Regions from separate parts of the Homo sapiens genome. Here all the other regions are linked to region 1. The links come from fine-mapping of genetic effects on gene expression. A gene starts in region 1. Each other region holds a variant in brackets. All regions are shown on one strand. Distances are between the middles of the regions.

Evidence for each region. PIP is the estimated chance that this variant, and not a neighbour inherited with it, causes the effect.
Region 2: its variant is fine-mapped to the expression of HECTD3 in skeletal muscle (FUSION, PIP 0.95).
Region 3: its variant is fine-mapped to the expression of HECTD3 in whole blood (TOPMed, PIP above 0.99).
Region 4: its variant is fine-mapped to the expression of HECTD3 in testis (GTEx, PIP 0.94).
Region 5: its variant is fine-mapped to the expression of HECTD3 in whole blood (TOPMed, PIP above 0.99).

The regions. Positions count from the first base shown.
Region 1 is chr1:45,008,176-45,013,276 of GRCh38, reverse strand. HECTD3 (HECT domain E3 ubiquitin protein ligase 3) reads left to right here and starts at 1,953. Exons shown (of 21, transcript NM_024602.6): 1 at 1,953-2,388; 2 at 2,571-2,731; 3 at 2,984-3,076; 4 at 3,156-3,291; 5 at 3,594-3,709; 6 at 3,795-3,908; 7 at 4,051-4,133; 8 at 4,576-4,741; 9 at 4,956-5,037. The coding sequence starts at 2,020. It overlaps UROD (uroporphyrinogen decarboxylase), which reads right to left and starts at 1,023. Exons shown (of 10, transcript NM_000374.5): 1 at 992-1,023; 2 at 258-370; 3 at 62-141. The coding sequence starts at 1,011. RefSeq lists enhancers at 927-1,056, 1,097-1,146 and silencers at 1,907-2,036, 2,117-2,286.
Region 2 is chr1:44,817,741-44,822,841 of GRCh38, reverse strand. It overlaps PTCH2 (patched 2), which reads left to right. Exons shown (of 22, transcript NM_003738.5): 22 at 173-904. The coding sequence ends at 427. LOC107984952 (a long non-coding RNA gene) reads right to left here and starts at 2,363. Exons shown (of 2, transcript XR_001738036.3): 1 at 2,280-2,363; 2 at 848-1,611. It also overlaps the pseudogene RNU5E-6P. RefSeq lists enhancers at 460-1,115, 1,116-1,773, 2,430-3,086, 3,093-3,142, 3,173-3,272 and 1 more and a silencer at 2,463-3,182. The variant A/G (reference allele first, on the strand shown) is at 2,962.
Region 3 is chr1:45,280,266-45,285,366 of GRCh38, reverse strand. No RefSeq gene overlaps it. Among named protein-coding and RNA genes, the nearest start is that of LINC01144, 21 kb to the left of the region's middle. The variant G/A (reference allele first, on the strand shown) is at 2,925.
Region 4 is chr1:45,031,439-45,036,539 of GRCh38, reverse strand. It overlaps ZSWIM5 (zinc finger SWIM-type containing 5), which reads left to right. Exons shown (of 14, transcript NM_020883.2): 9 at 241-501; 10 at 717-852; 11 at 2,071-2,228. Among named protein-coding and RNA genes, the nearest start is that of UROD, 22 kb to the right of the region's middle. The variant G/A (reference allele first, on the strand shown) is at 2,129.
Region 5 is chr1:45,101,312-45,106,412 of GRCh38, reverse strand. All of the region lies in intron 1 of ZSWIM5 (zinc finger SWIM-type containing 5), which reads left to right. Among named protein-coding and RNA genes, the nearest start is that of UROD, 92 kb to the right of the region's middle. The variant C/T (reference allele first, on the strand shown) is at 2,682.

The sequences.
Region 1 (5,101 bases):
GACAGGTTGCTAGGTGGCAGACTGAAGGCATAAATCTTTCCCTCTTTTGTGGACCCCTCACCTGCAGAGTCAGTTCACAGCAGGCCTCAGGAGAGCGACACGTGCTGAAAAAGTCCTGGGCAGCCCGGGTTTCCCTAAACTCTGCATACAGAGGGAAGACAGGGCTCAGCCTTGAGGCCCTCCAGAGCCCTCCCCTGCCCCTCGAAAACTTTTCTCCCTCCGGAGTTTTATCTAGATTTCCAGACCCTGACTCTTACCTGGTAAGTAACGGCCTGCCTGGCGCATGCACCAAACGGGAGTGTAGTCTGTTTCCTCTCCCCAGGCTGCTCGCAGGAATGTGTCATTCTTCAGCTCCGGAAAACCCTGAGGTCTGGCGATCAGGTGGGGGTGGGGGTAGGTGTCAGTATGCTACGCTGGAGGCTGGGGAAAGCGCGGGTTCATAAGGCCGATTCAGTCCAGGACCGCTATCTACCTCCTCCAGGCCAGCTCCCAAACCCTGGCTTTCCGCCCGTTCCGCCTCCTCTCTGCCTATCAGGTGGTGCACAAACTCCAGAAGGGCCCGCCCTGGGGCCTCTTCCCTCCACTTAGTCTCTACTCTTCCAAGCTCGAAGCAACCAGAGGGACTGGGGGGAGGGAATGAAGGCCCACTAAGGATAGTTTGGGGGTCTTCGAACTAGTGAGCCTCAGAAACGGGAATGTCACTGGGCTGGTTCAGGGGCTGAGAAATACCCAGGCTGGGGGATAAAGAGGGATCAGAGTTGATGGTCCCAGAATAGAGATCCTGGTTGGAAATCCTGAGGCATCCCTTGAATTAAGGCCCTGGGATGAACATCTCAAAAATCCATGGTTTTAGGATTCAGGATCCCAGCTAACGGAGTTCAGGTTGGGAGGTCTCCAGGGTGGGGAAAGGGGAGTAGAGGGATAGAGTCCTGAGTTGGAAGACTCAAATTAGAAGCCCGGCTAGCCACACCGCGTGCTCTGGAGAACTCACCCCAACCCATTCGCTTCCATGGTCAGCTGTCTGTAACTGCGAGCTCAATCCACAATTTAACCTGAATCTGAGCCTGCCCCCCAGTCCAGGCTCCGCCCCTTTCTGTAGGGAACCAAGAGCGTCGCCATGTTGAAGATCACATGATCGGACTCCAGCGACAGCTCCAGGGCTGCCCTGGCTGCTGCCCGTAGGACCCCTACCTTTTTTCACCGTAAAGTTTGCTGTAGCGACGCAACAACAAAGGCCCAAAAGAAAACTCCGCTGTAAATGTATCTTACGGTGACATGAGGAATTTGTTCTCATCTGACAGTCTGGGTATCCGGAGGCTTGGCGCAAGTCCCACTCATGATACCAACAGTCTTATCCAGCCAGGTCCATACTATAGCCTGGACCTATAGTAGGTGCAGAGGTTAGCTCTGCTCAAGACAGCCCCAGCCTTTAAGGAGCTACAAGACTGGGGAAACAGAAATCAGCAATCACATTAAAATGAATAATGATCTCCAGTGTCCTTGGGATTAGGAGTGACAAACAGAATCAACCCTAATGACTCAAGACTCCTGTCAGTGGCAGGGGAAGGGGCCATTGTCTCAAACACTTTAATCACACCACCCATAGGATAGGGAGTCCAGCAGATTCGCTGGGAGTGGGAGGAAAAACAGCAGGCCGAAGAACCAGAAAAATGACTGTTGGCAATGACCCAGGCTAGCTAGAATGGTGACTTGAATGAGGGTAGTAGCAGTAGAGATAAAATGGTAGTCACAAGGAAATGGAGAGAGGGAGATTGATCAGGTAGCAATCACCAATCTTGGGTTTGGTCGGCTGGGTTAGGGTGGCACAGAGATAAGTAATATGGTTGAGTGTGGGAGTACACAGTCCAATACAGTGAGAGCTGGGGTGCGCTTAGTCCAGAACATACGGCAAAGGCTGGCCAAAGGCGGGGAAGGGCGTGGTGGGAAGCTCTGTCCGCGGTCGCGCCAGCTGTTCCCCGGGCAGGGTCGCCTCTAGGTGCTCACCTCCGCCACTTCGCCATGGCGGGTCCTGGCCCGGGCGCGGTGCTGGAGTCCCCCCGGCAGCTGCTGGGCCGCGTGCGCTTCTTGGCAGAGGCAGCGCGGAGCCTCCGCGCCGGGCGGCCGCTGCCAGCAGCGCTGGCTTTCGTGCCGCGAGAGGTGCTCTACAAGCTTTACAAGGACCCAGCGGGACCGTCGCGCGTGCTTCTGCCGGTGTGGGAGGCAGAGGGCCTGGGGCTGCGTGTGGGCGCCGCAGGCCCAGCCCCCGGTACCGGCTCCGGGCCCCTCCGCGCCGCCCGCGACAGCATTGAGCTCCGGCGCGGCGCCTGCGTGCGCACCACGGGCGAGGAGCTGTGCAATGGCCACGGGCTCTGGGTGAAGCTGACAAAGGTGCGCTCTTCCCTGCCCAGGACCCGGTAAAAGACCCCTGGGGCCAGAGAAACCTCTGGCTGTTTGCCTTTTCTCCCCTGTATTGAGTTGGCATTGCGTTCGGCGCCCTTTGCCCTGGGCTGGGCACGACAGGCGGCTGGGCAGTTCCCTGACGGCTGTCCCCATCCTACGCGTCCCGGCAGGAGCAGCTGGCAGAGCACCTGGGCGACTGCGGGCTGCAGGAAGGCTGGCTGCTGGTGTGCCGCCCGGCGGAGGGCGGAGCCCGCCTGGTACCCATCGACACTCCCAACCACCTCCAGCGGCAGCAGCAGCTCTTTGGCGTGGATTATCGGCCGGTGCTCAGGTACTGCACTTGAAGGAGCGGGGCTGGCTGTCAGAAGGCCGGGCCAGGAGGGCTTGGGAACACTTCAGCCACAGCCTGGGGTGGGTGGGATACTGGAGCGGAGGCAGGGTTAAGAGCAGAAAGGGGCGGGACGTGAAGGGGGCTCGGAGGGAGACTGGGAGATAGAGCCCTGAAGAAGGCTACACGGCATGGAGGTAGTGTCTTGCTGACCGCTGATGTCTCCCCATCCCACTCCCTACTCTGTGCCCACAGGTGGGAACAGGTGGTGGACCTGACATACTCACATCGCCTGGGATCGAGACCTCAGCCGGCAGAGGCATACGCAGAAGCTGTACAAAGGCTACTGTGAGTGAGCTGGAATGGGGTGGGGAGGAAGGAGCTCTGCGTCTGGGCCCAGTCTAATTAGGGGCTTGGGGTTGCTTAGCTATGTACCCCCGACATGGACCTACGAGTGCGACGAGGACCTGATCCACTTCTTGTATGACCACCTGGGCAAGGAGGATGAGAACCTGGGTAGCGTGAAGCAGTATGTGGAGAGCATAGACGTTTCCTCCTACACGGTGGGTGCTGGGGCTCCTCCCACCCCAGGCAAGATATAGTCACACCCCTCAAGGCTAGATCCAGAAAGAACCCCCACCTGCAGGCCAGGACTAAAACAGGGTCCCCACAGGCCACACTCAGTTCAGCTCCCCATCTTGGACGTCTATAGGACCCCTTACATACCCAGCGGCCCCCTATCCCATACCAGTTGCCTGTTAGCCCAACTTCACTATGCTTTCTCTCTGGTGCTCCTGGCCCAGAGCACAAGCCCAGTGCAGGGAGGGAGGGTAACTGCTGACTTCACGTCTCTGCCCCTCCCCAGGAGGAGTTCAACGTGTCCTGCCTGACAGACAGCAATGCCGATACCTACTGGGAGAGCGATGGGTCCCAGTGCCAACACTGGGTACGGCTTACTATGAAGAAGGGCACCATTGTCAAGTAAGTAGGCTCTGGGCAGGACAGGGTGGGTGGGCTATGTCCCTGTGGGTTCACAAAGACTCATATTCACACTCTGACCCTTCAGGAAGCTGCTACTCACAGTGGATACCACAGATGACAACTTTATGCCAAAGCGGGTGGTGGTCTATGGGGGTGAAGGGGACAACCTGAAGAAGCTGAGTGACGTGAGCATTGACGAGTGAGCACGCTGGCCTGGGGAGGGAAGTAGGGCATGTTCCAAGCCTAGCCCAGCTTGAAAGCCTAAGTTTGAGTGAGACTCCAGCAGTCTCTGAAGGCCTGAGGCAGGAGGTATCTGAAGTGCTTCACACTCATCTCCTCAGGACCCTCATCGGGGATGTCTGTGTCCTGGAGGACATGACCGTCCACCTCCCGATCATCGAGATCCGCATCGTGGAGTGCCGAGGTGAGGTTTAAGGCTATAAGGAGGGAAAGAGAGCCCGGCGTGGAGATGGGGGCAAACAGAGAGTGTGTGTGGAGAGAAGAGGATGGGCTTGGAGTTGGGGTGAAGGCGATGCTGAACTAACTCCAGGATTTGGAGCTTTGGGGCCTGAGCCAGCTGGGACATGCCAGGTATAGGCCTGCCTTAAAGCCATACAGGTGGTTGGGCTCACCTGGAAGAGGAACTGAGTTGGGACCCTCAGGCATCCCAGCATTCTAGTGGAAGACAGAGGAATCAGCAGGAATAGATCAATCAGAATCAGGTGATAGAAGGTGATCCCGAAGGTCCCGAGTTTCTAGGGGCTAACGGTGACACAAGGCTGAGCGTTCAAGGAGCCGGTCCCAGGTCTGAGGGCCAAGGAGGCAGCAGGTGCTGTAAATGACCTTACTCTGACCCCTTCCCCCAGATGATGGGATTGATGTTCGTCTCCGAGGGGTCAAGATCAAGTCATCTAGACAGCGGGAACTAGGGTTGAATGCAGACCTGTTCCAGCCAACTAGTCTGGTGCGATATCCACGCCTAGAAGGCACCGACCCTGAAGTACTGTACCGCAGAGCTGTCCTCCTGCAGAGGTGGCTGTGGTCCTGGACCTATGGGCCCTTCCCTTCCCCCAACATTGAGCCTTGTGTGTCTGCATGGAGGAGGTTCCCAAGGTCTCATAGTATAAGCTGTTCAAGGGTCAGAGAAGCCCCCAGGTCCTGCCTTTTCCTGTCCCTTTATGTTGGGGAGTTGGGGGTGTTACAGGTATGCTAAACTCTTTAGCTGCAGTCTATCTACCCATGCCAGATTCATCAAGATCCTCGATAGTGTCCTGCACCACCTGGTACCTGCCTGGGACCACACACTGGGCACCTTCAGTGAGATTAAGGTGAGCCGACCCAGCCAGTGCTGGTCTTGGCATTTCCCCTTCCTGCTCACGTAGTTGTTCATTC
Region 2 (5,101 bases), 190 kb after region 1:
TGCAGGGTTTGCCCCAGGCCTCAACATCCTGTCGCCTGCCAGCTCTCATATCCTGCTGGAGACCAACAAGGGCCCCAGCTTCCCAACAGTCATGGTAATCCCCAGCGAGATGCTAAAGGGGACGGGAGCCCCAGGGGCCCGTGGGCTTACTGGGGCTGGTGTCTCCCCACAGGTGATACAGATGTACAAGGAAAGCCCAGAGATCCTGAGTCCACCAGCTCCACAGGGAGGCGGGCTTAGGTGGGGGGCATCCTCCTCCCTGCCCCAGAGCTTTGCCAGAGTGACTACCTCCATGACCGTGGCCATCCACCCACCCCCCCTGCCTGGTGCCTACATCCATCCAGCCCCTGATGAGCCCCCTTGGTCCCCTGCTGCCACTAGCTCTGGCAACCTCAGTTCCAGGGGACCAGGTCCAGCCACTGGGTGAAAGAGCAGCTGAAGCACAGAGACCATGTGTGGGGCGTGTGGGGTCACTGGGAAGCACTGGGTCTGGTGTTAGACGCAGGATGGACCCCTGGAGGGCCCTGCTGCTGCTGCATCCCCTCTCCCGACCCAGCTGTCATGGGCCTCCCTGATATCCATACAGAACAGCCACCGATTTGCACATCCAGGCCTGTGTGAGCCTGTATCTGTGTCACTTGAGAGTGAAAGCTGGCACTTGGGGCTGCAGTGCAGCCCTGTCCCCCTTCCCACCCCACACCACTGCCTGCCCAGCTGACCAAGCCTGAGGGACCCTCCAGCACCCTTCCGTCTGGTGACTCCTGGGCAGGCTCTCCATATCCCTGCCCACCTCCTACCACATCCATTATTTATATGAAAATGTCTATTTTTGTAGTATACATACATGTTAGCTATGATGAAAGTTTTATTTTTTAAAGAATGAAATATATTCTATGTGAACTAATCTCAGATGACTTCAGTGCTTTTTTTTGGACAGAGTGGGGAGTTTGCAAGTGAACATTAGCTATTGGAAGGAGCTTCTCTGGTGCCAGGACCTGAGGTATTAGCTTCTCTAGTTCTGGGTGGAAAAGACCCCAGATTCTGGATTTTTGTCATATACTTGGTAACATCATCTGGATTAAGTGCTTACTATACAAAACGATAACAAATTTTGTTGGTGTGAAATCCTACTGGGTTCAATCTGGAGACCGAGAGCAGAAAAAAAAGAACCCCACTGTGTGGCTTTCAGAGCCACCATATTCCAGCCTGCCCGTCTCTCCAGACTCACCTCCACCTACCTGCTTCACCCGCACGGGAAACGGCAAGGCAGAGGGGCAAAGCCATGCAGCAGGTGGAAGGCGAGGTGGAGGCAGATCAGGAAAGCAGCCAGTTGAAGCAGAGAGAGGTCAACAGGGTCTGGGGAGCTTCTCAGGAGGTTTGTGGACCCAGGGAAAGGAGCCAGGTTCCAGAGCAACCTCCAAGGCAAAGGCCTCTGTAAGTTGGTTGTCCTGACAGCCGAGAGGTGTCTTTGGCCAGTCAGCCAGTGGATCAGTTGCGGGAACTGCTCAGAAACTGAGGTGCTAGCAGTTAGTGAGGACACAGCGTAAGTTGTTTGTTCTGTGAAAGTTGAACAGCTCCACTAAGCAGAGGCCTTGAAGAGTGGCCACAGCCCTGGAATAGAGCACAGAGCCTCACCTAGAGGCGTGGGGAGGTTTGCAACTGCCCCTTCCCAGCCATAGCTTAGGACCCATAGTCTAGTTCACATAGACCCTGGGCTCCAACCACCCACTCACCAGGAATGATCCCACCCCAGGAACAATGCGTTCTCACATCCCACCCCACCTGGACAAAGGCCAGGAAATCATGTTCTGACCAAAAGATACAACAACAAAAACAACAACAACAAAAAACGCCTATTGCAATTGAATCCACGCTAAAATGCCTAAAAAGCTCAAGAGAAGCGGGTAGTTGGCAGAGAACCTAGAGTAGGGGGTGCAACCAGCAGGCCCAAGGGAGGGAGGCTGCATTTGGGTCCAGCAGTGTTTGGGTCACCAAGAAGGGCCTTCTAGGTGGAGCAGAGAGAGCTCACCAGGCCAGAATAGTGCAAAGGGGGTCAGCCCTCAGTGCCACTTACCAGCGGAGTAACCCTGGGCAAGTTAGCCAGCCTCACTAAGCCTCCTCATCTTCATCTTTCCAGGCCCGAGGAGATCTAGCCTCTGCCTCCCACCCCAGCACCCCCTCATCAGACACACGGAGCGCCACTGTCTGGACAGGCTGAATTGGTCTTCGGGTCCCTAATTTCTCATACGCCATTCCCTCTGCCTAGAACACTTTCTCACCTCCCCTTGATGTGACCCCATATCACCCTTCGAGGTGAATTGGATCGGATGCCATCTCCTCCAGGAGGGGTGGGGTCGTGCCTCCTGTGAGGTCCCAGTGCCCCTGAGTGTCTGTGCCCGTCTGTTTCCCCGTCCCTCTCTCTAAGCCCGGAGGCTTACTGCGGGTAAGGACGGCGGGACAGGACCTTAACCCCTGGGACGAACACCAGCTCCGCAAAGGACTCCGCACCCGGCGCCGCCCACGGGGTGCGGGTCCCAGGAGGACCAGCAGAGAGGAGCATAGGAGAGCAAAGGAGATCAGTGACCCATGGCTTCCCCGGTGGCGCGGAACAGCCCGGAGCCGCCTGTGATTTGCATACCCATGGTGCACCACGAAAAGATACCCTCAAGATGCTTGCACTCCCTCTGTGCGCGCATTTCTGCACTGTTTTAGAGCATGATGCCTCTTACACGCATCTGTGTGCATAAACTACATATAGGGAGTGCGTACCACGCAGGCATCCAACAACCATAAGTGTGTTAAGTGTTAGTTCTCCCTGCGAGGTTCGAAGCGGAAGTCACGAATATACTCGGGTTTCTCTTCAAAGCGCATAAATCTTTCGCCTTTTACTAAAGATTTCCGTGGAGAGAAAGTTGTGAGTTTTTATTCAATTTTTTGAGGCCTCTTATTTCCTGAGGCTAC[A/G]TTTTTAAGTATTAAAAGTTAGGCAACTACAACCAAGGAACTTGGTCATTTGTTATTTGTACCAAATGTTCACAAACTTATTCGGGCGTGGTGGTGCCTGTTTGCAATCCCACCTATTGGAGAAGCTGGGGCGGGAGAGTCTCTTGACTCTAGAAGACGGAGGTTGTAGTGATCCGAGATCGCGCCACTGCCCTCTAGTCAGAGTGGCAGAGACTCCTGGGGCGGGAGAGTCTCTTGACTCTAGAAGACGGAGGTTGTAGTGATCCGAGATCGCGCCACTGCCCTCTAGTCAGAGTGACAGAGATTCAGTGTAAAACAAAAAAAAATCAGAAGTTTGCGTGACACCTTGTTTTGAGCTACATTTGGGGTTTATTGGCTTCTGCAGTGTGCAGTAAGACTGGCTTCTATTGTTTATTTCTTGCGTTTTTGTTGCATTTCGTTGCAGATTTAAGAGATAAACAGTGGAAGGCGCTTTCAAGTCGTCCGGTCATTAATTAAGCCTTATTGTGGCTAGAGGTTCAGGGGCGGTATATCGCGCCAACCAAACTCCTTGTTCTATTCCCAGAGACAGTAGCTGTTAGCGGTTTGGTGTGGCTCTTCCAGACTGATTTTTTTTTCCCAACTCGATTGCGAATCCAAACACAGTTTATGTGGTGAAGAGACAAGGTTCCTTCTCCTATGGAGCTTTTTTCTTTTGAGATGGAGTCTCACTTTGTCACCCAGGCTGGAGTGCAGTGGCTCAATCTCGGCTCACTACAACCTCCGCCTCCCGGGTTCAAGCGATTCTCCTGCCTCAGCCTGCGGAGTACCTGGGACTACAGGCGCCCGCCACCACACCCGACTAATTTTTGTATTTTTAGTAGAGACGGGGTTTCACCGTGTTGGTGAGGATGGTCTCGATCTCCTGACCTCGTGATCCGCCTGCCTCAGCCTCCCAAAGTGCTGGGATTACAGGTGTGAGCCACCACACCTGGCCCTTTTCTTTCTTTCTTTCTTTTTTTTGTTTTTTGTTTGTTTGTTTGTTTGTTTGTTTGTTTTTGAGAGGGAGTTTCGCTCTTGTTGCCCAGGCTGGAGTGCAGTGGCGCGATCTCGGCTCACTGCAACCTCCACCTCCCGGGTTCAAGCGATTCTCCTCCTCAGCATCTGGGATTACAGGCGCACCACCACGCCCGGCTAATTTTTGTGTTTTTAGTAGAGACAGAGTTTCACCATGTTGGCCAGGCTGGTCTCAAACTCCTGACCCCAGGTAATCCGCCTGCCTCGGCCTTCCAAAGTGTTGGGATTACAGGCAAAAGCCAACGTGCCCGGCCCCTATGGAGCTTTTCTAATAGAACCAAACACAAAACAAATTGAATAAATAATATAAATCCCAGATAAATAATATCTCAGTGAGAAGTGCCCTGTAGAAAGAGCATTTTGATAGAATGGTCTACCTCCTTCCTATTCCCTCTCCATAAGGGAGCTCACCTACTTCCATGGCTTTAAGTAAATGCCATCTGATAGCTAGTGACCCCCCAGTTTACAGCCATCAGCTAGTCCTGTTGACTCCCTTCCATCAGCTGGTCCTGTTGATACCTTCAAAGCGTACGCTTCATCCAACCACATTTTACCACCTCCACTGCTGCCATCCTGGTCCAAGATCTCTTGCTGGATAATTGCAATAGCCCCTAACTGTTCTCCCTAGACCACTCTTCTACCTCGCTCTTGCCCTTCTCAATTCCAGTCCTCCACATAACGGCCAAATTCTTTTTTTTTTTTTTCTGAGAGGGTCTTCCTGGAGTGCAGTGGCTGGAGTGCAGTGGCACAATCTCAGGCTGGAGTGCAGTGGCGCAATCTGAGTTCACTGCAACCTCCACCTCCCAGATCCAAGCAATTCTCCCACCTCAGCCTCCCAAGTAGCTGGGACTGCAGGCGCGTGCCACCACACTGGCTAATTTTTGTATTTTTTGTAGAGACGGGATTTCGCCATGTTGCCCGAACTGGTATCAAACTCCCAGATTCAAGTGATTCGCCCACCTCACCCTCCCAAAGTGCTGGGATTACAGGCAGGAACCACCATGCCCAGCCCAAATTATTCTTTTAAACTAAATCTGATCACACATCACTGTCCTGCACAAAACCCTCCAATGCCTTCCCCCAT
Region 3 (5,101 bases), 270 kb before region 1:
GATCATTCCCCTGGAAGTTTTGTCTCAGAGGAGTACCCGGCCGTGTGAGGTGTCAGTCTGCCCCTACTGGGGGGTGCCTCCCATTTAGGCTATTTGGGGGTCAGGGAACCACTTGAGGAGGCAGTCTGTCTGTTCTCAGATCTCAAACTCCGTGCCGAGAGAACCACTACTCTCCTCAAAGCTTTCAGACAGGGACATTTAAGTCTTCAGAGGTTTCTGCTACCTTTTGTTTGGCTATGCCCTGCCCCCAGAGGTGGAGTCTACAAAGGAAGGCAGGCAGGCCTCCTTGAGCTACAGTGGGCTCCACCCAGTTCGAGCTTCCTGGCCGCTTTATCTACTCAAGCCTCGGCAATGGCAGGTGCCCCTCCCCCAGCCTCGCTGCTGCCTTGCAGTTTGATCTCAGACTGCTGTGCTAGCAATGAGGGAGGCTCTGTGGGTGTAGGACCCTCCCAGCCAGGCGCAGGATATATTCTCCTGGTGTGCCGTTTGCTAAGACCGTTGGAAAAGCACAGTATTAGGGTGGGAATGACCCGATTTTCCAGGTGCCGTATGTCACCCCTTTCTTTGACTAGGAAAGGGAATTCCTTGACCCCTCGCACTTCTCGGGTGAGGCGATGCCTCGCCCTGCTTCAGCTTATGCTCAGTGCACTGCACCCACTCTCCTGCACCCACTGTCCAACACTCCCCAGAGAGATGTACCCGGTACCTCAGTTGGAAATGCAGAAATCACCCGTCTTCTGTGTTGCTCACACTGGGAGCTGTAGACGGGAGCTGTTCCTATTCGGCCATCTTGGCTCCACCAACCAGTGTCATTAACTTTAAAAAAGATGGTCAAAAGAGAAGTAGGGGTAGTTCTTGACTTAATTACAACCTGTAATTTTGTACATTACACTTTGATATCTCTAAATAAAGCTTTTTTTTTTTTGGGATGGAGTCTGGCTCTGTCGCCCAGGCTGGAGCGCAGTGGCACGATCTCTGCTCACTGCAAGCTCCGCCTCCTGGGTTCACGCCATTCTCCTACCTCAGCCTCCCAAGTAGCTGGGACTAGAGGCACCTGCCAACACGGCAGGCTAATTTTTTTGTATTTTTTTTTTTAGTAGAGATGGGGTTTCACTGTGTTAGCCAGGATGGTCTTGATCTCCTGACCTCGTGATCCACCTGCCTCAGCCTCCCAAAGTGCTGGGATTACAGGCATGAGCCACTGCACCCGGCCTAAATAAAGCATGTTGAATGTTTGCACATCTGCTGATAAGTGAACATTTTTATCTCATACTGTGCTAAGCAATTCTGGTTTTGCCAACTTTGTCAGTACAAGATGATTTGTACAGCTATTTGATTTTTTTGTGCATTTTACTGGTATTTTATATAAATAAGTGGGAAATGGAAAAATGAAGTTGCTGATAGTGGTGACAAAATGCATATTTTATAAATTTATTACAATTGAGATCCAATAGCCACCATTAAGTTATGCTGAAAATGCTGACTCTTCATGCTAATTTGGATGCCCATTGGTGTTTATTCAGTTCATTCTGTGTTGATTTGCAAGGGAAAAAAATTAAAGAACATGTACTCATACAACCTAATAGTGAGAAAACAATAACTAAATTTAAAAATGGGCAAAGGAGTCTGGGCACAGTGGCTGTTGCCTGTAATCCCAGAACTTTGGGAGACTGAGGTGGGAAGATCGCTTGAAGCCAGGAGTTTGAGACCAGCTTGGGCAACATAGTGAGACCCTGTCTCTATAAAACACAACCCCCCCTTTTTTTTTTTTAGATGCAGTCTCGCTCTGTTGCCCAGGCTGGAGTGCAGTGGCGCCATCTCAGCTCACTGCAAACTCCACCTCCCAGATTCAAGCGATTCTCCTGCCTCAGCCTCCCAAATAGCTGGGATTACAGGCACACACTACCATGCCCAGCTAATTTTTGTATTTTTAGTAGAGACACGGTTTTACCATGTTGGCCAGGCTGGTCTCAGACTCCTGACCTCAAGTGAGCTGCCTGCATAGACCTCCCAAAGTGCTATGATTACAGGCGTGAGCCACAGTGCCTGGCCTCTACAAAAAAAAATTTAAAAAATTTGTCAGACATGGTGGCATGTGTCTGTAGTCCTAGCTACTCAGGAGGCTGAGGCAGGAGCATCACTAGAGCCCAGGAGTTCAAGGTTGCAGTGAGCTATGATCGCAGCACTCTAGCTTGGGTAACAGAGGGAAACCCTATCTCAAAATCAAAAAAAGAAAGAAAGAAGAAAGAAAGAAAGAGAGAGAGGAAGGAAGGAAGGAGAAAAAGAAAGAAAGAAAGAAAGAAAGAAAGAAAGAAAGAAAGAAAGAAAAAGAAAGAAAGAAAAGAAAAGAAAAAGGAAATTGTAAACTTTGTGAAAACACTTCAAAATGTTTTTTATAAAATACTGAAAAGGGAAACAACAAAAATGACCAATATGTTAGGGGTTAAACATATGACATTTTCTAGAAGATTGGGGCTGATGAAATATTTACTTTGCTAATCTGCAATGTATATGGGAATGCTATGGGAAAATAGCATTAGAATCAACAACACAAATAATTATTAAAGTATTAGTGCCATAGTGCATAGTTACCTGTTTTTACCTTAAGACCACATCTCGATAAATGTGAGCATTCCTTTCTCTAAATTTGCTACTTACGATGTGAAAGCAGCTCTTTTCCAAATGATCTAGAGTATAATTTTTAAGAAATCAGAAGAATTGTGTTGTTAGCTATTAGCTACTATTGAAGCTATTTCACTTGCAAAGGAAGGAAAGCAAACCCACAAATGTTGAGCAAATGCCAAAATGCCAAAAAGGTCTTACAAAATGGTACAGAGACCACAGGGAAACAGCTGTGTTTCTGACAAGCAGCGTGCTCCATCCTGGAAATACAGGAATTAAAGGAGTTAATGAACATGAGGAAG[G/A]AAAGGGAAGTATGATCCAGTCTTGGCTAACTTTCACCTTGGAGGAGCTAATAACAATTCTAGAAATAAAGCAGCAGGAGGAGAAACTACTGATAAGGGTAGCTCAAAATTTGAGGCCCGTGAGATTAAATCTGAGCCAATTTTGCTTTATTTTTGCTGAAGATTTTTTGCAGAGATGAATGCTGTTTGTATTTGAGAGTTGAGAAGACATAATTTACTTATTTATTCAGTCAGCAAATGTAAGAGGTGCTGGGGATCGTAATGTTTGAGGGAGACTTGAAGTTTCGTATGATGGATGGGCCAAGTGACGGTGCTGGGGATTGTGTGGGGTGTTCCAGGCAGAGGGAACAGTGTATGGAGAGGCACAGAGGATGGGCAGATGGTGATGGTAAAGGAATGATTTTCTCTATGTAATAGTGGGAAGGAAAAATGTTGCTCTTCAGAAAGATAATTCCTGGCTTATTATCACTTCCAGGGAAGGGACAACATTCGCAGCACGGATAGGTGGTTCTTTTTTGTTTGTTTTTTCGCTCTTGTTGCCGAGGCTGGAGTGCAATGGCATGATCTCACTCACTGCAACCTCCACCTCCAGGGTTCAAGCTATTCTCGTGCCTCCGCCTCCCGAGTAGCTGGGATTACAGGCATGCGCCACCACGCCCAGATAATTTTGTATTTTTAGTAGAGATGGAGTTTCACCATGTTGGTCAGGCTGGTCTTGAACTCCTGACCTCAAGTGATCCACCCACCTCAGCCTCCCAAAGTGCTGGGATTACAGGCGTGAGCCACCGCGCCTGGCCAGGTGGTTCTTTTTATTGAGGAAACAGCCAGTGATTCTTGGGAGGGGTAAGGAAGGGAGGGGGAGGTATGAGATAAAGAGAGCAGAATTGCTCTGCTCAAGAAAGGAAGAAGTGAGAGGAATTTGGAGTTTGGGGCAGCCTGGGGGAATAGGCCTGAGAAAGTTGGAGAGAGGGGGTCAGTGAGGAGAATAAATGAGAAGATGGGAAGGTCCAAGGAAGAACCTTAGGTCAAATAGAGAAGTCATCATGAGCTGGAGAACAGGAGAAGCAGAGATAAGGGGAACACGAGATTTTTCCAAGGAATATACAAAACACAAAGTTTTTTAGCACAGACTTCCACATTGTGTGGGACAGGGCTTGAGTAATTTTTTTTTTTTTTTTTTGACACTGTGTCTTGCTTTGTAACACAAGCAGGAGTGCAGTAGCATGATCATGGCTCACTGCAGTCTCAAACTCCTGGGCTCAAGTGATCCTCCTACTTCAGCCTCCAGAGTAGCTGGGACCACAGACACCCACCACCATGCCCAGCTAATTTTGTATTTGTTTTTTTGTGGAGACAGAGTCTCATTATGTTGCCCAGTCTGGTTTTGAATTCTTGGCCTCCAGTGATCCTCCCACTTCAGCTTCCCAAAGTGCTGGGATTACAGGTGTAAGCCATCACTTCTGGCCTGAATTTTTAAAAATTTTTATTTATTTATTTTATTTTTTATTTTTTTTGAGGCGGAGTCTCACTCTGTCACCCAGGCTGGGATGCAGTGGCGTGATCTCGGCTCACTGCAACCTCTGCCTCCTGGGTTCAGCAATTCTCCTGTCTCAACCTCCCAAGTAGCTGGGACTACAGGTGCGCACCACCACACCTGGCTAACTTTTGTATTTTTAGTAGAGATGGAATTTTGCCCCATTAGCCAGGCTGGTCTTGAACTCCTAACCTCAGGTGATCCATCCTCCTTGGCCTCCCAAAGTGCTGGGATTACAGGCGTGAGCCACCGTACCCAGCCATTTATTTATATTTTCATGGACAGAGTCTTGCTCTGTTGTAAGCTACTTAAGAGACAGGGGTGGGAGGATAGCTTGAGCCTGGGAAGCGGAGGTTGCAGTGAGCCAAGATGGTGCCACTGCACTCCAGAGTGAAGACAGGGGAGACTCTGTCTCAAAAAACAACAAAAAAAAAAAAAAAAAAGAAAAAAGAAAAGGAAGAAAGAAAATCCCTAGATATAATGGCTGTGCCACTTTGAGTCTGCAGTGAGCTACGATTGTGCCACTACACCTAGGCTGGAATGCAGCGGCACAATCATAGCTCACTGCAGCCTCAAATTTCTCACCTCAAGAGGTTCTCCCCTCTTGGCCTTCCAAAGTGCTATGATTACAGGAATGAGCCAC
Region 4 (5,101 bases), 23 kb before region 1:
CTACTAAAAATACAAAAATTCGACAGGTGTTGTGGCATGCTCCTGTAATCCCAGCTACTTGGGAGGCTGAGGCAGGAAAATCGCTTGAACCGGGGAGGCGGAGGCTGCAGTGAGCTGAGATTGCACCACTGTACTCCAGCCTGGACAACAGAGCAAGACTCTGTCTCAAAAAAAAAAAAAAAAAAGAAAGAAGACTCTACCAAGCCTAACCTAAAGAATTTGGTGCCCTGTTGCCCTCAGATATGAATGAAAGCAGACCCCCTGTGTACCAGCATGTACCTGTGGCTGCAGGCTCCCCAAACAGCAGTGAGTCCTACCTGTCATTGGCCCTGGAAGTTGCACTGATGGGCCTGGGTCAACAGAGGTTAATGCCTGAAGGCCTCTACGCACAGGACAAGGTATGCCGTAATGAGGAGCAGCTCCTGAGCCAACTCCAAGAGCTGCAGCTGGACGATGAGCTAGTGCAAACACTGCAAAAACAATGCATCTTACTGCTGGAAGGTAAGTAGAAAAGAGTCTCTTGTCACGGTGTCTTTGGCCCATGACCCTGAGCTCCCCTCTCCAATAGAGTACAAGTACAGGAACATTTATGACATTAAAATGTAGTGAATGAAGGTTCCCATGATTAGCAAACATGCATGAGATACTGGGGCTCAAGTCCAGGCTGGCAGATGGAAGCATACAGATAAATAACTGGCTGGCTTATCTTCCTCCAGGAGGTCCTTTCAGCGGTCTGGGAGAAGTCATCCACCGAGAGAGTGTTCCCATGCATACCTTTGCCAAGTATTTGTTCTCAGCTCTGCTGCCTCATGATCCAGACCTGTCCTATAAATTAGCCTTACGTGCCATGAGGTGGGTAGCCCTTTCCCAGTCCAATTGCCTCCACCAAAGCAGAAGTGTCCAGTGCTCTTTTTCATTGCTTATTTCACTTTCTTTTCTTTCCCTCTTTGTCATTCTGTTGGACCCGCTACCAAGTGTACCTTAAAATGGCTCAGATATTTTTATATGATCTAGGATTCATATCTGGATTCCTTGTTGGTGACTTGGTTCCCTGGCAGTACTCATGGTTGATTGTCTGAGGAAGCCCCTGAGATGTTAATAAATAAGGAGCACTTAAGACCTGAGTCTTCCTGTTCAGTGGTTATTCAGGCAAGCTGAGAAGGGGTCTGAGCCCTTCTGTAGTTCAACTCAGTCAAGGTTCCCAGGCACAGGTCCCCAGAAGAAGCTGGGGGAAGTAGAGATAAATATGTTTACCCCAAGACTTGAGAACAATGAGCTATGGGCATCTTGTTTCCAGGCTAGAATAGGATCCTTGGTTTAGGCAGTTAAACCTCTGGGATGTAGCAGACTATACAGAAGAAGAATTTTAGTCAGACTGTAAGGCTGGGAGAATACCTTAGCTAAAACAGGAAATTCCTTGGCATGTATTTCTTATACTTTTAGAAATAACCAGGCTGGGTACGGTGGCTCAAGCCTATAATCCTAGCACTTTGGGAGGCCGAGGCAGGTAGATTGCTTGAGCCCAGGAGTTTGAGACCAGCCTGGGCAGCATGGTGAAACCCCATCTCTACAAAAACAAAAAATACAAAAATTAGCCAGGCATGTTGGTGCACACCTGAAGTCCCAGCTACTCAAGAGACTGAGGTGGGAGGATCGCTTGAGCCTGGGAGGTCGGGGCTGCAGTGAGCTGTGATTATGCCACTACACTCCAGCCTATGCAACAGAGAGAGACACTGTCTCAAAAATAAATAAAATAAACAACCCTATGATTCTTTTTAAAAATGTATTAACTTTTCTCTCTTTTTACAATATATCATACTATTCAACCCGATAGCTCTTGAACGGCCTTTCACATCCATTTGTAGTGGAAACTATTCAGCGTTGAGTACTCTTAAGTGCCCAGGCACTCACCTCATATAGTGTATAGTACCATAGGTTTAAAAACCTTCAAAGCTCTTAGTTAATCCTTTCCTCTCCCCAGTTCCTCCCCAGCAAAGAGCAAGCTTCTCTAAGGTGGCTCGGAAGCCCAGGGTCTGGATGGTGGCTGATGATTCTTCCTGGGTCTTCCAGGTTACCTGTTTTAGAAAACTCAGCTTCTGCAGGCGACACATCCCACCCTCACCATATG[G/A]TGTCTGTGGTGCCCAGCCGTTATCCTCGCTGGTTCACGCTTGGACACTTGGAATCACAGCAGTGTGAACTGGCCTCCACCATGCTGACTGCTGCCAAAGGTGAGCATAGATAGACCTTAAGCTCCAGCATCACCCGTCTGCCTGCCCAACCATGGCATGTCAAAGGCTTGGCCTGCAGTCTCCTGAGAAAGAGAAGCTCCTTGACCATTTAGAGTGATAGTGGTCCTCACTTTGATTGCTGCCATTAGAAAGAGCACCTGGCCAGGCGCGGTGGCTTACGCCTGTAATCCCAGCACTTTGGGAGGCCGAGGCGGGAGATCACGAGGTCAAGAGATCGAGACCATCCTGGCCAACATGGTGAAACCCCATCTCTACTAAAAATACAAAAAGTAGCCGGGCGTGGTGGCGGGCGCCTGTAGTCCCAGCTACTCGGGAGGCTGAGGCAGGAGAATGGCGTGAGGCAGAGCTTGCAGTGAGCCAAGATCGTGCCACTGCACTCCAGCCTGGGTGACAGAGCAAGACTCCGTCTCAAAAAAAAAAAAAGCACCTGGATCCAAGCCAAAACTTTACCCTAGTTACTAATTGTAGGATACCAAATATGTAAAATTAAATGATCTTTAAGGTACTTCTAAGTCTAACCTTCTGTTTGATAAAATCACTTCACCTTTCTACGCCTCAGTTTCAAATCTATAAAATGGGGATCATTGTCAATGACCTGTCAGCCTCCCAGGGCCACTGGAAGATCTAATGAAGTGATGACTAAGATAGAGCTGAACTCCTTACAGATATAAGAGTTGGTGATTTTTTTTTCAGTGCCCTGGTAAAAGATAGGCAGTCCAAAGTGATTCTCAGGCCTTTAAGCTCACATACATCCTGTTAGCTATGCAGGTTTCACCACAAACAGAAGTGAAAGTAAGCCCCTATATAAGAAGGAGCTATGATAAAATGCTAGCCACCATGAGCTCCTGAATATTTTAGACCAGGAAACTACATGGATTTTGAAGTTATTTTTTAATTAAAAATAACTTTATGTGGTATCTTCTTATTGTCCCCCCAAAAATACATGCTTATTAGAGAAAAGGTAAAAGTTACATATAAATTAATATAAAAATGATCAGCAAACAAATACAAAAATAGAACAAAGCATATGATCAGACAGTTCACAGAAAAGGAGATACAAATCGTTTTTAGACAACTAAAATACCTGGTATCACATTAGAAATACAAATTAAAATTAGCCTGAGATAACATTTTTTACTGATCTTATTGGCAAAAAACAAATCTGATAATGTGCATTCATGTGAGGAGTGTCAAGTGGGGAGTGGCGGTAGCCTGCATGGAGTATCAGATTCCAAGCAGGATAAGGAGGAGGACTACAGATCTAAGGAAATCAATGAACCACAAGCATAATAAACATGAAGAAAACTATACCATGGCACATCATAACCAAAATGCTTAAAACCAATAATAGAAAATCTACTTAAAAGCAATCAGAGTAAAAAAGATACATTACAAAGGACAAAAAAACAAGTATGGGAACAGATTTCTCATTAGAAACAATGTAAGCCAGAAAACAGTGGGAAAAAAAACCCTTAAAGTACTTTAAAAAAAAAAAAAATTATCAGGCCAGGCACGGTGGCTCACACCTATAATCCTAGCACTTTAGGAGGCCAAGGCGGGCAGATCACTTGAGATCAGGAGTTTGAGAACATCCTGGCCAACATGGTGAAACCCCTGTCTCTACTAAAAATACAAAAATTAGCTGGGCGTGGTAGTGCACACCTGTAGTCCCAGCTACTCAGGAGGCTGTGGCACGAGGATCGCTTGAACCTGGGAAGCAGAGGTTGCGGTGAGCCGAGTTGCACCACTGAACTCCTGCCTGGGTGACAGAGTGAGACTCTGTCTCAAAAAAAAAAAAAAAACAAAAACTGTCAAACTAGAATTTTATACCAATGAAAATATATTTCAGAAACAAAGATGAGGCCAGGTGCAGTGGCTCACACCTGTAGTCCCAGCACTTTAGGAGGCCAAGGCAGAAGGATCACTTGAGACCAGGAGTTTGAGACTAACCTGAGCAACATAGCAAGATCCTGTCTTTACAAAAAATTTTAAAAATTAGCCAGGTGTACTGGCAAGCACCCGTAGTCCCAGCTACTCAGGAGGCTAAGGCAGAAGGACTGCTCAAGCCCAGGAGTTAAGAGACTACAGTAAGCTACCATCATGACACTGCACTCCAACCTGGGTGACAGAGCAAGACCCTGACTCTTAAAAAAAAGAGAGATGAACTAAAAATCTTTTTCAGACAACCACAGTTCAATTAGAATTCGATAATAAAAAGATATTTTAAAATATCTTAAGTTTTTGGAAATTAAACCACATACGTGTATATTACTCATGGAGCAAAGAAAAAAATCACAAGAAAATTAGAAAATCTTTTGACTATATGAAAATGAAAGCACAAGTCAAAATTTGTAGAATGTAGCTAAGGTTTTACTTATAAATTTTTAGCAATAAATGAAAAATGCTTCAAATCAGTGATCTCAGATTTCACTTTTTTTTTTTTTTTTTTTTGAGATGGAGTCTTACTCCGTTGCCCAGGTTGGAATGCAGTGGCGTGATCTCCGCTCACTGCAAGCTCCACCCCCTAGGTTCATGCCATTCTCCTGCCTCCGCCTCCCGAGTAGCTGGGACTACGGGTGCCCGCCACCACGCCCGGCTAATTTTTTTGTATTTTTAGTAGAGGTGGGATTTCACAGTGTTTGCCAGGATGGTCTCGATCTCCTGACCTCGTGATCCGCCCACCTCAGCCTCCCAAAGTGCTGGGATTACAGGCGTTAGCCACTGTGCCCAGCCCAGATTTCACTTTAAGAAGTCAGAAAAAGAAAACCCAAGGTAAGCATAGGGAAGGAAATAATAAAAATGAGAGCAGACAGGTGCGGTGGCTCATACCTGTAATCCCAGCACTTCGGGAG
Region 5 (5,101 bases), 93 kb before region 1:
GGCAGAGGCGCTCCTCACTTCCCAGATGGGGTGGCCGGGCAGAGGCGCTCCCCACATCCCAGACGGGGCAGCCGGGCAGAGGCGCTCCCCACCTCCCAGACGATGGGCGGCCAGGCAGAGGCGCTCCCCACCTCCCAGAGGGGGCGGGGCAGAGGTGCTCCTCACCTCCCAGACAGGGCGGCCGGGCAGAGACGCCCCTCACCTCCCAGAGGGGGCGGCCGGGCAGAGGCGCCCACTTCCCCGACGGGGCGGCCGGGCAGAGACGCCCCTCACCTCCCAGACGGGGCAGCCGGACAGAGGCGCTCCTCACCTCCCAGACGGGGCGGCCGTGCAGAGGCGCTCCTCACCTCCCAGACGGGGCGGCCGGGCAGAGGCGCTCCTCACCTCCCAGACGGGGCGGCCGGGCAGAGGCGCTCCTCACTTCCCATTCGGGGCAACCGGGCAGAGGCGCTCCTCACTTCCCATTTGGGGCAACTGGGCAGAGGCGCTCCTCACTTCCTCCCAGACGGGGCGGCCGGGCAGAGGTGCTCCTCACTTCTCAGATGGGGCGGCCAGGCAGAGGTGCTCCTCACATCCCAGACGGGGCGGCCGGGCAGAGGCTCTCCTCACATCCCAGACAATGGGCAGCCAGGCAGAGACACTCCTCACTTCCTAGATGGGGTGGCGGCGGGGCAGAGGTGCTCCTCACTTCCCCGACGGGGGCAGCCAGGCAGAGGCACTCCTCACTTCCCATTCGGGGCAGCTGGGCAGAGGTGCTCCTCACTTCCTCCCAGACAGGGCGGCCGGGCAGAGGCGCTCCTCACTTCCCAGAGGGGGCGGCCAGGCAGAGGCACTCCTCACTTCCCATTCGGGGCAGCCGGGCAGAGGCGCTCCTCACTTCATCCCAGACGGGGCGGCCAGGCAGAGGCGCTCCTCACTTCCCATTCGGGGCGGCCGGGCAGAGGCGCTCCTCACTTCCCAGACGGGGCGGCCGGGCAGAGGCACACCTCACATCCCAGACGATGGGCGGCCGGGCAGAGACGCTGCTCACTTCCTAGACGGGGTGGCAGGCAGGCAGAGGCTGTAATCTTAGCACTTTGGGAGGCCAAGGCAGGCGGCTGGGAGGTGGAGGTTGTAGCGAGCCGAGATCATGCCACTGCACTCCAGCCTGGGCAACATTGAGCATGAGTGAGCGAGACTCCGTCTGCAATCCCAGCACCTCGGGAGGCTGAGGCGGGGAGATCACCCGAGGCCAGGAGCTGGAGACCAGCCTGGTCAACACGGTGAAACCCCGTCTCCACCAAAAATACAAAAACCAGTCAGGAGTGGCGGCGCGTGCCTGGCATCCCAGGCACTCGGCAGGCCAAGGCAGGAGAATCACCGGAGCCCAAGGCAGGGAGGTTGCGGCGAGCCGAAGATCTCAGTCTTTTAAAATACACATCTAATTTCCTTGTAGGGGCACAAGTGAAAGAACACTAGAAAACTAGGTAAATGCAAGGTTATCGCTGTAAGTGAATACCTGGGCTTCGGAAGCCTCATTGTTCTTGAACTGTGGTTTCTGGTACAGATGGAGAACAGAGACCACTGGCTGCTGAAGCTGGTGCTGAGGGGGGCCAATGGCTGTTCTTCGGAGGTTAATACAGGGAAAACCACTTGATTTGCCAGAGGAGTCTGGGAGGGGAGCAGATGGCCGCAAGAAGGGCCCTCTAGCTTACTCAGCTGCTCTGAGAAGCTTAGGGTGACCTCTATAATACAAACAAACCAAGTAGTTCTCAGGGTAATGGGGCAGCATCATTTGTATTCCCAAATAACAATACTGCTCCTCACTTTGCAATCTCTCGCACCCTCACCCAGTGTTTGGGCACCATCTGCTTCTTGTGAACTTATATAGGCCCCAGGCGTGGCCAGTTGGGATTGCTATTGAATGATATCTTTGGGAAATGTGTTCTTTACAAATTACTTTCACATGAGTCTGATAGGCAGCTAAGTAGTATTATGTCTATTTGCATAATTAAGAAACTGAGGCAAAGAGGAATTGAGGGGTACTAGAATTACAACTCAAGCATTCTGATTCCTAATCTGTTTGTATCGATAGTATATGGAGCCATTCCAGTGCTCTTGTTTAGGCAGTTGTTACCCAGCTTTTGAGAAAGGCTTTCTGGAAAGGAAATTAGTTATTTTATAGATGTCACTCTCATTGTTTTAATTGTTCTGGTTACTGTTTTGCTAAGTGACAAAAAGGAGAGAAAGAGTGGCTGCTTTACTTCTGCTGGTATACTGCTGTGGCCTTCCGGGAGACAGGAATTAAGTGAGAAGGTCTAATTTATACTATGCAGTTTCATCAAAACCAAATTTATTCAAGAGGAAGCTTTCTCAGTCAAAGAAGTTACTTAGTTTATATATTTGCATATCCTTTTTAACTGACTATAAGAAAAAATATTCTTTTCATAAACCACATCTCTTCTTTTCCCTGCTATTGGCTGAAATGATAATCATTTTCATGCATTAACACCTGCCTAGGGGCCTGGTGAATCAAAAGAGCAATGAGAAAAGTGGTTTTAATTGCCCAAGCTTTACTAGAGCCTTTCTTGCACTCAGAAAAACAAAAGGCTTTGAATGGTGTCAAAGGGCTGCACTGAGAAGTGCTTTCCTTTAGAACTCTAAGCAGATGATTCACTCATGTCCTGATACATTTTCTTGTA[C/T]AGATGAGTTCATGAGCCCACCTTCATTCCAACTATGAGAGCATCACAGCACTTGTCAGTTTCAGTTACCTTGAACATTTGCCCAGGAAAACAGGCAAATGTCAGAGTTTACTGACTTGTTATTAGTGCAGGACTCTCTGTCTTTGTAGAATTACACTTGCTAATTACCTTTACAAAGTTTTGTATACAAATTTAAACTTCAGAGTCATATTTAATATATTGTAGTCCTTAAGAATATAGGCTCTGGAGCCAGACTACCTGTGTTCAGATCCCAACTTTACATTTTACAGGTTGTGTGATCTTAGACAAGTTCTTCTATCTCTCTTATCCTAGTTTTCTTATCGGAAACAGGGAAATAACAACAGAATCTACTTTGTAGGGTTGCTTTGAGCATTTAATTAGTTAATTAGTTAATACATGGGAAGCACTTAGAATACTATCTGTCATGTAGTAAGTATATCCAGTAAATGTTGGCTGATAAAAACTGCTTGTATTTTATATTTTTGAAAATAGGTTATAAAAATTGGCAGAAGCATAACAGGCATAAATATCAATTATGAGCCGGGCATGGTGGCTCAGCTCACACCTTCAATCTCAGCACTTTGGGAGGCCAAGGCAGGAAGATCAGTTGAGACCAGGAGTTTGAGACCAGCCTAGGCAATATAGCAAGACTCATCTCTACAAACATTAAAAAAATAATAATTAGCCAGGTATTGGTGGCGCATGCCTGTGGTCTCAGCTGCTTGGGAGGCTGAGGTGAGAGGATCACTTGACCCTGAAGGTCGAAGTTGCAGTGAGCCGTGATCATGCCAGTACATTCCAGCCTAGGCGACAAAGCAAGACCCTGTACCCCCACCAAATAAATAAATAAATAAATAATTTAAAAATCTATATACATACATTATGGAAAATAATCTTGGTGTTTCAATATTATACCAAATATACAAATTATTGTTACTTTGCTCACCGTCTCAGTAAAATTATTTAATTACTGGCTTATTTTAATCACAAATCAGGAATTTTATAAACATGCTTAATCCTCTGTGAACTGTAGATATAAATATGTAAAAGATTCAGTTTAGTGTTCATTTATTCATTCATCCATACACAGTCAGTTATTAAGTCCTTACCATGTGCCTGAGATGAAAATATAGAGATGAAAAAGATATACATAACTCCCTTATTCAAGGAACTCACAATCTAAAGGGAAACGATAAATGTGAAGACAATTACATTGATGTCAAGTACTATAATGGAGATATGACTGATGAAAAATGAGTGCTTAGGAAGAAGCACTTAACTAGCTGTCCAAAAAGATGAGGGAAGACTTCCCAGAGTAGGGGCTCATTTGAGTCAAGAATTAGCATGAGAAGGAAATGAGAAGGTCATGCCTGGTATAGGAAACTTCACATGCAAAGGCATAAAGGATAAGAAAATGGAGAAAACAGCATAGTCAAGAATCTGCAAATAGTTTGGTGTGTTTGGAATGTGGGAGAGTGGTATGAAGCAAGTCTGAAGAGATAGAAAGAAATCATATTGTAAGAAGTTTGAACTTTATCTTGTAATCAGTGGAGAACCATTGAATGATTTTAAGCAATTCAGTTCAGCAAACACTTTTATAAATGTTTACTCTATGCCAGACTGTTAGGTAACAGAAATATAAAATACATAGTTCACAGTTTTTTTTTTTTTATTATACTTTAAGTTCTAGGGTACATGTGCACAATGTGCAGGTTTGTTACATAGGTATACATGTGCCATGTTGGTTTGCTGCACTCATTAACTCGTCATTTACATTAGGTATTTCTGCTAATGCTATCCCTTCCCCTGCCCTCCACCCCACGACAGGCCCTGGGATATGATGTTCCCCGCCCTGTGTACAGGTGTTCTCATTGTTCAACTCCCACCTATGAGTGAGAACATGCGGTGTTTGGTTTTCTGTCCTTGTGACAGTTTGCTCAGAATGATGGTTTCTAGCTGTATCCATGTCCCTGCAAAGGACATGAACTCGTCCTTTTTATGGCTGCATAATATTCCGTGGTGTATATGTGTCACATTTTCTTAATCCAGTCTATCACTGATGGATATTTGGGTTGGTTCCAAGTCTTTGCTATTGTGAATAGTGTTGCAGTAAACATACATGTGCATGTGTCTTTATAGTAGCATGATTTATAATCCTTTGGGTATATACTCAGTAGTGGAATCTCTGGGTCAAATGGTATTTCTAGTTCTACATCCTTGAGGAATCGCCACACTGTCTTCCACAATGGTTGAACTAGTTTACACTCCCACCAACAGTGTAAAGCATTCCTATTTCTCCACATCCTCTCCAGCATCTGTTGTTTCCTGACTTTTTAATGATCACCATTCTAACTGGTGTGAGATGGTATCTCATTGTGGTTTTGATTTGCATTTCTCTG